2 separate regions of the Homo sapiens genome follow, and region 2 is linked to region 1. Evidence: fine-mapped expression QTL. A gene starts in region 1. The other region holds a variant in brackets. All regions are shown on one strand. Distances are from middle to middle.

Region 1 (5,383 bases):
AGCATACAGGGAGATCAGCATTGCCTGGGCTGGATACCAATACTGACTAATACCAAGAAACAGCCACAGACATACACACAGCTGCAAAACTAAGGTGCAGCCCACCCAAGAAAAGGCTTTTGCAGAACCACATGCATCTGAAGGACTTCATCGTTCTCATTCACTTCCATCCATTCCTATTTCTAGTTGTTTTGTAGTTGTATTTCAGGGAGCAGGGGGCAGAAAGGAGGTGTGTGGGCCAGAGACATGTTCAAGAGATTATGAAATGGAGCCTAAGTTAGAAAGTACATCCAGCAATTTCTCTAGCCTCCCAAGAGGGAACGAGTGAGTATGCATGTGTGCATGTATGGGTGTGTATGAATCTTACCCAACACATTTCTGCCTACCACAAAAGGATTTAAAACTCAAGGTGACTCAACAGCTGTCATCAATAGCCTGACAGGTGGGTGGGAGAAGCAGAAAAGAAATGAATAGCTTTTGAAAAATGGAGTAATAAACACCACTGGACTAACAAGCTGATTAGAAGTGCCATGTCTAATAAATCTTGCGTCTAAGAGAAAGGCAGAGTTAATTTCATTTGAACTCCTAACCAGTCATTCCTCTGAAACCTATAATTGCCTAAGGGCACAAATCACTGCTAGGGTCCAGTTAAAGGCTTGCTGACCAAACGCAAGAACAACAACACATCACCAAGATCCGAATAGTTTGTTACTGAATCAAAGGGTAACAACCCAGGGAGAGAACACACACCCCCACAATACTTGACAAATGAAAATCTAGAGAAGCTCACAATAGTTCTGGCATTTAGGGCGTTACAAGTACACCCAAAATAAAAGCACTCTCTGTTGCAGCAGCTGTTCAGACAGAGCAGGGGGTAATGTTTACTTAATACTTCAGGTTGATGGGGGATGTATCACAGTTCAGTCTGTCAACTACATACGTGGAACTCCATTTATGTACACAGCGATAAGATATGTTTGAACAACGATGGAGCACGTCTGAAACAATCTATTCAGTTGGTATGAGTAATCGAGAATAAAGCTCTTTTTTAAAAAGTCTCAGATATTTGGGAAAGTTACAGAACAGACTGCCATGAATAGCTTTGCTTATATTTGCAGACACTGTTTTCCAAATAGCTGGAAAAATGAACAGATTGTTCTGGGAGGTCGTCTTTCCAATTTGTTCCTAGTTTTCAGTCTGTTAATCACAGGAGAGAGCACAAGGAGAGTCAGCTAATGCTCTTCACTAACTGCAACTACTGTCAGTTGGACACAACCACTATGAGACCAGAAGCCAAAGAGTTCCTGGAATCCCGCCAGAGGTTATCAATTTTGACTTCCTTCATTTCACCTTTGTGCTCACTGCAGCCACTACAGGACCCTCTGTGGGGCATAATTTTCAAAATCGTGGATGAGGCAGGTTTCACATTATAATGGACACATCGTGCTCAACCCCATCCCCTCTTCATTCTGCACCAACTTTCTATCTCGGTGGAGAGACCAAACATCAGAGACAGCAACTAAAGACTAGGCTGCAGAGGTCGAAGGTGGAAGAAGGACGGCAGCGCCCCGAACCCCGGCTGTCTGCCTGGCTCTCAGGGGATGGAGGGAGCTGCATGACTAGGCCCAGGCCCGAGAGAAGCGGGGTTCAGCCTGGGACCCAAGCTGCGCACCTGCAAGGACAGAAGCAGCTGGCTGCCCTGGCCGAGCCAGGGGCGCCACCTCCGGACCCAACATCCGGCCAGCGCAGCCGCTGACATCGCCCGTCCCGCTTGCCCCTCCCCTGAGCCCATGGTCCTCGGCCTGGCAGCCAGCCGCCCCCGGCCACCTACCGGGGCTCAGGGCCACATAGCGGGGCCCCGGCTCTCGGCGGCCTCCGCCTCCTCCTGGTCCATGGGCTCGGGGACCCCCAACCTTCGCTCCCCTCACCCGGAGGAGGAGGAGGAAGAGGAAGAAGGTAGTGCGGGCTCCCCACCCGGACAGCTACCTCTCGCCTCAGCCTCCCTGGACAGCGACGGCGGCCGGAAACACCGCCTCCTCCCACCTCCCCGGGACCGACCCGGAAACACACTCTCCATGCTAACCAAGCCCTCCCGCCCCTCCCCCGGGAAGGGCAATGCCGGCCGCGAGACCAAGGGGGAGGAGGGGCAGTGCTGGGCGGGTAAAACTACGCACAAGCGAAGGAATCTGGGCCCCCAGCCTCTCGCCGCCCGCTCTCCAGAGGCAGTCTGCACCTTGCCTCCTTCGCTCGAGCCCCAGCCCCCAGACTCGGGCAATACCCACAAGCAAGATGGCGGCAACGGCGGCACCCCCTACTGCTTAGCACCCTGACTTGCCATTGGCCAGAGCCCGGAGTGAAGCAGCCGCGGATTCGTCAAGAGCGGTGCGGGGGTGGGGGTGGAGCTGCAGCAGCCTGGAGCCAGGAGTGGGCAACGCGGCGTGAGCAGCGGCCCGAGGCTCCCGGAGCATCGCGCTGGGAGAAGACTTCGCCGCTCGGGGCCGCAGCCTGGTGAGCTCAGCCCCCTTCGGGCCCTCCCCTGCATCCCAGCCGGGGCCTCTCCGAGCCGGCGCTGATCGATGCCGACACACCCCGGGGACCCTATCGCGACTCCATCGCGCCATATCGCGACACCATCGTGCCCTGTCGAGACTCCATTTTGTCACAGCCCTTTTCAATATATATCTTTTTTTTTTTTAATTTGCCCTGTCATCTTTGGGGGCTGTCTCCCATGTCGTGATTTTGACGTGATCTCTCCGTGACATCACCGCGCCATCGTGAAGTGTGATCTCATCGCCGCCCTGTCGTGACTTCATCAATGTCGTGTTGTGACCTGGCTGCGGCGGGACAGGTGGTGACCGCCAGGAACCCTCCTCCCCTTCTCATCTCCCCATCTCAGCAGCCCTGCTTCGATTATCCGGCTTTTGGATTCTCCGTTGTCCTGGGAACTATCCGGGACCCCCTCTTGCTTCTCCAGCCCCTGCCGGCATCCACAGGCTGGTAGCGGGACGGGGAGGGCGAGAAGAGGGAGCGCAAGGGGTTAATTCTGCTGCTGCCGCCGCCGCTGCTGCTGCTGCTGCAGCCTCTACCCGAGGGAGGGAAAGGAGAGGAGGCAAGGAGCCTGCGGGGGCGACTGAGAGCCCTGGCTGGAGGGGTGGGGTCCCCAAAGGGGCCTCCAAGCCTTCCCTGTTGAGCGTCTTGTATTCTCACTTCTGAAGCGTATCTCTGCCTCTGAAGAAGGGAGGGGAAAGGAAGCCTGGGGTGTCCTTTTCTCCCATGTCAGCCTGAGTCCGGATAATCGAACTTCACCCATGTATGTCTCCATTTCTCCCTGTCTGTCCTCACCACTCACTCCCTCTGTGTCCCTGTGGAGGGAGATAAAACCCAGCCTCCGGTGCCAGGGGGACAGCTGAGCAGTGGGGCCAGCTCCCGCCCACCCCCAGGAGACTGGTGAGGAGAGCTGTCCGGCTGAGCAGCAGCATGCATGGTCCTTCTTTCCCGCTTTCTGGAGGTGACCTTGGACCAGGGTCCCTTCTTTATCCCTAAGGATTTGCAGATCCAGCCCCTTAAAGGGGCTTCTGGGGGGAGGTCAGTCCTGAGGAGTCCACCCCTCCAGATTCTCTCCTCCCCTCCCTCTGTGCTAATCCCTCCCTCCCTCCATCCTCCACTCTCACCCCCACCCCACCCCCGTCCCTCCTCTGCAGAGGGATGCTCAGTCCCTCTTGTGTTCACAGTTGGGCAAGGCGAGCATCATGGCCTCGGATTGCGAGCCAGCTCTGAACCAGGCAGAGGGCCGAAACCCCACCCTGGAGCGCTACCTGGGAGCCCTCCGTGAGGCCAAGAATGACAGCGAGCAGTTTGCAGCCCTGCTGCTAGTAAGGAACTGGCTGAAAATTGGGAGGTGGGAAGGGCTGGGTGGTTGGGCCCCCAAGGAATGGGGTCAGTGAGTCCCCAAGGATATGTACGTAGTGCTAGCAACCCTGGAGGCACCAACGAAGGCCCAAGACCCCTACCTTTGTGCTCTTTTTTGCTCCCCCTGAGAATGGGGGCAAAGAGGAGAATGGGACTGAATAAGGCTGTGGCACTAGGGGCTGCCTGGGTCTGTTTTCTGGGGCGTCCCAGAGCAGATGGAAGCTGACTCATAGGGTAACAGCAGCAGGTAGTAACTAGTGCAGAGTACTTGAGGGCTGGGGATGGTTGTTCTGGGCCTGGAGAGAGTAGCAGGGCTGGAAGTGGCTGGGGAGGGGTCCTAGGGGAAGGCCAGGATGGCAGTAGGTAGGTTAAGGAATGGGAGCTAGTTTGGGGCTTAGCCTTTTTGGAGGAACCCAAGCTGGGGACAGCAGAGCAGAAGCTGCAGTGCTAGGAAGGGGGGGTTGTGTGTGGGGGGTGAAGGGAGGAGGGAGTACAGCCGCTGCTTGTTTGCCATGGCAACAAGGAGAAGGCTCTGGAGTCAAGGGCTCACACTGCAGCAGAGGAGGTGTTTAGGTGAAATGTAAGGGGAAATGTTTTGACAGGCGGAGCGGCGAGACACAGGAGCCATTTCCCCTGAGAAGGTGGCAGAAATGGATCAGGGACTTCTCTGGAGGGAGCAATTAAGGAAGGACTTTAAATCCTTGGGAGATCTTAAAACATTGAGTTCTAAGCCCCTTCCATCCCAGGTTGTGGGCATTTAGACATCAGGAAGAACTTCTCAACTGGCCAGGTGTTGAAATGCTCAAATGAATGGTTGAGGAAGACTAGACCTCACTTCCATGGGACAGTCACAGATGAGAGGGATCCCAGAGGTCACATTTATCTGCCTCTAAGGAGAAAAAAGGAGCTGGATGAAATGACCTCAGATGAGTCCTGTTGCATAACCTCATCTTGCTAGTCCTCAGTGCCCCAGGATGCAGGAGAGGGACAGTCTTTCCCACTTCTTCCTTTCATCCTGATGATAGCACATACCCCCTATAGGTGACCAAGGCAGTCAAAGCAGGTGACATAGATGCCAAAACTCGGCGGCGGATCTTCGATGCTGTCGGCTTCACCTTCCCCAATCGTCTCCTGACCACCAAGGAGGCGCCGGATGGCTGCCCTGACCATGTTCTGCGGGCTTTGGGTGTGGCCCTGCTGGCCTGCTTCTGCAGTGACCCTGAACTGGCCGCCCATCCCCAAGTCCTGAACAAGATTCCCATTCTTAGCACCTTCCTCACAGCCCGGGGGGACCCGGACGATGCTGCCCGCCGCTCCATGATTGATGACACCTACCAGTGCCTGACGGCTGTAGCAGGCACACCCAGAGGGCCTCGGCACCTCATTGCTGGTGGCACCGTGTCTGCCCTATGCCAGGCATACCTGGGGCACGGCTATGGCTTTGACCAGGCCCTGGCACTCCTGGTGGGGCTGC
Region 2 (5,383 bases), 30 kb before region 1:
TGGGAGTGCACATATCCCTTTAATATACTAATTTTCTTTCCTTTAGATAAATAATACCCAGTAGTGGGACTGCTGGATCATATAGTAGTTCTATCTTTAGTTTGTTAAGAAATCTCCATACTGTTTTACATAATGGCTGTACTACTTTACATTCCCTCCAATAGTATATGAGAGTTCTCTTTTTTCCGCATACTCGCCAGCATCTGTTCTTTTTTGCCTTTTTGATAACAGCCATTCTAACTGGGGTAAGATGATATCTCATTGTGGTTTTGATTTGCCTTTCCCTAATAATTAGTGATGTTGAACATTTTTTCACATATCTGTTAATCATTTTTATGTCTGGATATGTAGATCCTTTGCCCACTTTTTAATGGGGCTATGTAGGGTTTTTTGCTGTTGAGTTGTTGGAATTGTGTATTATGGATATTAGTCCCTTGTCACCAGACAGATATTTTGCAAATATTTTCTCCCATTCAACGGGTTCTCTCTTCACTTTGTTGTTTCATTTGCTGTGCAGAAGCTTTTTAGCTTAACATAATCCCATTTGTCTATTTTTGGTTTTGCAGCCTGTGCTTTTAGGGTCTTAGCCATAAAATCTTTGCCTAGACCAATATGCTAGAGTGTTTCCCCTATGTTTCTTCCCAGTAGTTTTACAGTTCTGGGTCTCACATTTAAGTCTTTAATCCATTTTGAGTTGATTTTTGTATATGATGACAGACAGGGGCTCTAGTTTCATTCTTCTGTGTATGAGTATCCAGTTTTCCCAGGACCATTTGTTGAACAAGATATCCTTTCCCCAATGTGTGTCCTTGGCACCTCTGTCAAAAATCAATTGGCTATTAATACGTGGGTTTATTTCTGAGTTCTCTGTTCTGTCCCATTAGTCTATGTGACTGTCTGTTTTTATACCAATACCATGCTGTCTGTTGTTTTGGTTACTAGAATTTTATATACATATATATATATATGTATATATTTAAAACCCACATATATATGTACATATATACATATGTGTATGTGTGTGTATATGTATATATGTACGTGTGTGTGTGTATATATATACATACATATATATATACATACATATATATATATATATATATATACACACATACATATATATATGTATATATATATATATATATTTGTGGGTTTTTAGAGACAGGATCTCGCTTTGTTGCCCAGGCTGGAGTGTAGTGGTCCAATCTTAGCTCACTGCAGCCTCAACCTCCTGGGCTTAAACAATCCTCCTGCCTCAGCCTACCAAATAGCTGGGACCACAGATACATACCATCACCCTTGTCTAATTTTTAAAATTTTTTGTAGAGATGAGGTCTCACTAAGTTGCTCAGGCATGAGCCACTGTGTCCAGACTATCATATATTTTGAAGTCAGGAAGTGTGATGCCTCCTGCTTTATTCTTTTTGTTCAAATTGCTTTGGTTATTGGAGTCTTTGTGGTTCCATAAAAATTTTAGAGGTGGGGTACAGTGGATCATGCCTGTAATCTCAACACTTTGGGAGGTCAAGACGGAAGGATTGCAGGAGGGTCACATGAGGCCAGGAGTTAAAGACCAGCCTGGGCAATATAGCAAGATCCTGTCTCTGCAAAAAATTTAAAGAATTATTCAGGCATGGCAGCATGCACCTATAGTCCCAGCTACTCAGCAGGCTGAGGTGGGAGAACTGCTTAAGCCCAGGAGGTTGAGGCTGTTCCTTCTATGCCTAACTTGTTGGGCATTTTTATCATGAAGGGATACTGAATTTTATATTCCAAAAGCATTTGTGGAAACAAAGGTTGTTGAATTTTATAAGTTGCTTTTTCTCTGCCTATTGAGATAATCACACGGTTTTTGTCCTCCATTCTGTTGACATGATGTATCATTTTATTGATTTGCATTTGTTGAACCATCCTTGCATCCCTGGGATAAATCCCACTTGATCATGAAGTATCTTCTTGATGTGCTGTTGAATTTGTTTTGCTAATATTATGTTGAGGATTTCTGCATCTATGTTCACTGGGGATATTGACCTGTAGTTTTCTTTTTTTGTTATGTCTCTGCCTAGTTTTGGTATCAGGGTAATGCTGGCTTCATAGAATTATGAAGAATTCTATGAATTAGAGAGAGTTTCTGCGTCTTCTATTTCTTGGACTAGTTTGAGAAGAACCAGTATTAGTTCCTGCTTATTAGTCCGGTAGAATTTGACAGTAAAGCCATCAGGTCCTAGGCTTTTTTGGTTGAGAGACTTTTTATTATTGATTCAATCTTGTGACTTGTTATTGGTCTGTTCAGGTTTTCCATTTCTTCCTTATTCAATCTTGGTAGGTTTTATGTGTCCACGGATTCATCAATTTCCTCTAGGTTTTCCTGTTTGTTCATGTATAGTTCATGTTCTCTGATATCTTTTGCATTTCTGTGATATCAGTTGTAAGGTCTCCTTTTCATTCCTGCTTTTGGCTCTTCTTTTTTTCTTGGTTAGTCTAGCTAGTGGTTTATTGATTTTGTTTATCTTCTCATTAAACCAACTTTTCATTTCTTTTTTTTTATTTCTTAGTCTCTATTTTGTTTATTTCTGCTCTGAT[CTTCA/C]TTATTTCCTTCCTTCTACTAATTTTGGGTTTGGTTTGTCCTTGCCTTTCTAGTTCCTTAAGGTCCATCATTAGGTTATTTGAAATCTTTCTACTTTTTTTGATGTAGGTGTTTATTGCTCTAAACTTCCCTCTTAGCACTGCTTTTGCTGTATCCCATAGGTTTTGGTATGTTTTTTCCATTTAAATTTAAGAAATTTTTTTTCTTCTTTTTGGAGACAGGGTCTAACTCTGTCACCCAGGTGGAGCAAAGTGGCACAATCATGGCTCACTGCTACTTCAAACACCTGGGCTCAAGAGATCCTCTTGTCTCAGCCTCCTGAGTAGTTAGGACTACAGGCATGTGCCACCACACCTGGCTAATTATTTTTGTAGAGACAGGGTCTCAATATGTTGTCCAGACTCATCTTGAACTCCTGGTCTCAAGTGATCCTCCTGCCTCAGCCTCCCAAAGTGTTTCAAGAAATTTATCTCTTCTTTTTTCATTGATCCAATGGTCACTCAGGTGCATGTTGTTTAATTTCCATGTATTTGTATAGTTTCTAAGTTCCTCTTGTTATGGATTTGTTTTATTCAATTGTGGTCTGAGAAGATACTTGATATGATTTTGATTTTTAAAAATGTGTTGAGGTTTCGTGGTCTGACATATGGTCTATCCTAGAGAATGTTCCATGTGTTGATGGGAATGTGTATTTTGCAGTTGGTAGATGAAATGTTCTGTAAATGTGAGATCCATTTGATCTAAAGCATAGTTTAAATCCAGTGTTTTTTGTTGATTTTTCTGTTAAGATAATCTGTCTATTGTTGAGAGTGGGGTGTTGAAGTCCCCAACTATTATTGTATTAGAGTCTACCTCTCTCTTTAGGTCTAATATTTGCTTTGGGTGAACTGGTGTTGGGTGTATATATATTTAGAATTGTTATATCCTATTGCTGAATGGATCCCTTTATCATTATATAATGACCTTCTTTGTCTCTTTTTACTGGTTTTGACTTAAAGTCTGTTTTACCTGATACAAGTAAAGCTATTCCTGCTCACCTTTGGTTTCCATTTGCACGGAGTATTTTTTTCCATCCCTTTACTTTCAGTCTATAGTTATCTTTACAAGTAAAGTGAGTTTCTTGTAGGCAGCATATAGTTGGGTCAAGTTTTCTTATCTATTCTGACAGTCTGTTATTGTTGTTGTTATTTGGTAGAGATGAGGTCTCACTATGTTGCCCAGGCTGGTCTCAAACTCCCAGGCTCAAGCAATCCTTCCCACCTTGGCCTCCTGAAGTACTGGGACTAAAAGAATGCGTCCACATGACTGGACCAGTCCATATCCTTTAAGTGGAAAATTTAATCTGTTTACATTCAAGGTTATTATTGATATGTGAGAACTTACTACTGTCATTTTGTTAACTGCCTTCTGGTTATTTTCATATCTTTTGTTCCTTTCTTATTGTTATGGTTTGATGATAAAATGAGTGAGTCCTTACTCTTTCTCATCTGTGTGCTTGCTCTATTAGTTAGTTGTATACTTTCACGAGTTTTCATGATGGTAGATATTATCCTTTCACTTCCGAATGTAGGACTCCCTTAATCTTTTATTGTAGGACTGGTTTAGTGGTTATGAATTATCTGTTTTTCCCTGTCTGGGAAAGTCTTCATTTCTCCTTTATTTATGAAAGATAACTTCACTAGGTACAGTATCCTTAACTGGCAGGTTTGTTTTTTCCCTTCAGCACTTTGAATATATCATCTCATTCTCTCCTGGCTTGCAAGGTTTCTGCTGAGAAATCTGCTGTTAGTCTGATCAGGATTCCTTTAGATGTGAACAGATGCTTTTCTCTTGCTGTGTTTAGAATTCTTTTTGTCTTTACTTCTGACAGTTTGACTATCATGTGCCAAGGAGATCTTTGTGGGTTGTATCTGTTTGGGAATCTCTGAGCTTCCTGTATCTGTATGTCTAAATCTCTTCTTAAATTTGGGAAGTTTAAAGCTATTATTTTGTTTAATCAGTTTTCTATGCCATTAAACTTCTCTTCACCTTCTGGGATACCCAAGACTCAGATTTTTGGTCACTTTATGGTATCCTATATGTCACAATGCCTTTTTTTTTTTTTTTAATCTAACTGGGTTATTTTTAAAGACCTGTCTTCAAGTTCTGAAATTATTTTTTTTGGAGACAGGGTCTCATTGTCACTCAGGCTGGAGTGCAGTGGCACGATCACAATTCACTGCACCCTCAGCCTCACAGGTTCAAGCAATCCTCCCACTTCAGCCTCCTGCGTAGCTGCGACTACAGGCATGCACCACCATGCCCGGCCTTTTTTTTTTTTTTGTAAAGTCAGGGCTTCACTATGTTGCCCATCTAACTCCTGGACTCAAGCGATCTGCTTGTTTCAGCCTCCCAAAATGCTGGAATTACAGCCATGAACCACTGCACCCAGCCCGAGTTCTGAAATTCTTTCTTCTGCTTTATCATCTAGTTTATCGCTAAAGCTCTCAATTGCCTTTTTTATTTCATTCACTAAGTTCTTCAGTTCTAGGATTTTTGTTTGGTTCTTTTTTATGCTATCTCTTTGGTGAATTTCTCATTCATATCCTAAATTGTTTTTCTGATTTCTTTGTGTTGTTTATCTGTGTTCCCATGCATATCACTAAGCCTCTTTAGTATCATGATTTTGAATTTTCAGGCAGATCATAAATTTTTCACTGAAGTCTGTTATTGGAGAATTATTGTGTTCTTTTGGAGATACCATATTTCCTTGCCTTTTCATGTTTCTTGAGTCCTTTTGTTGATAACTGTATATCA

Alleles and levels. Positions count from the first base shown, and alleles are read on the strand shown. Sizes are in standard deviations (SD) of each study's normalised expression.
For the expression in skeletal muscle of the gene that starts at base 2,028 in region 1, allele CTTCA in region 2 goes with a higher level than allele C (small effect, 0.40 SD a copy in GTEx).

What was found. PIP is the estimated chance that this variant, and not a neighbour inherited with it, causes the effect.
Region 2: its variant is the best candidate, but not a certain one, in a credible set for the expression of KIAA0319L in skeletal muscle (GTEx, PIP 0.70).

What each region holds. Positions count from the first base shown.
Region 1 is chr1:35,555,376-35,560,758 of GRCh38, forward strand. KIAA0319L (KIAA0319 like) reads right to left here and starts at 2,028. Exons shown (of 21, transcript NM_024874.5): 1 at 1,832-2,028. NCDN (neurochondrin) reads left to right here and starts at 2,424. Exons shown (of 7, transcript NM_014284.3): 1 at 2,424-2,848; 2 at 3,732-3,872; 3 at 4,951-5,383. The coding sequence starts at 2,816. RefSeq lists enhancers at 1-657, 1,458-2,185, 2,186-2,912, 2,202-2,261, 3,640-4,365 and 1 more and silencers at 1,722-1,821, 1,832-1,971, 3,043-3,252.
Region 2 is chr1:35,525,306-35,530,688 of GRCh38, forward strand. The region is part of intron 2 of KIAA0319L (KIAA0319 like); the gene reads right to left. Among named protein-coding and RNA genes, the nearest start is that of KIAA0319L, 29 kb to the right of the region's middle. The variant CTTCA/C (reference allele first, on the strand shown) is at 2,584.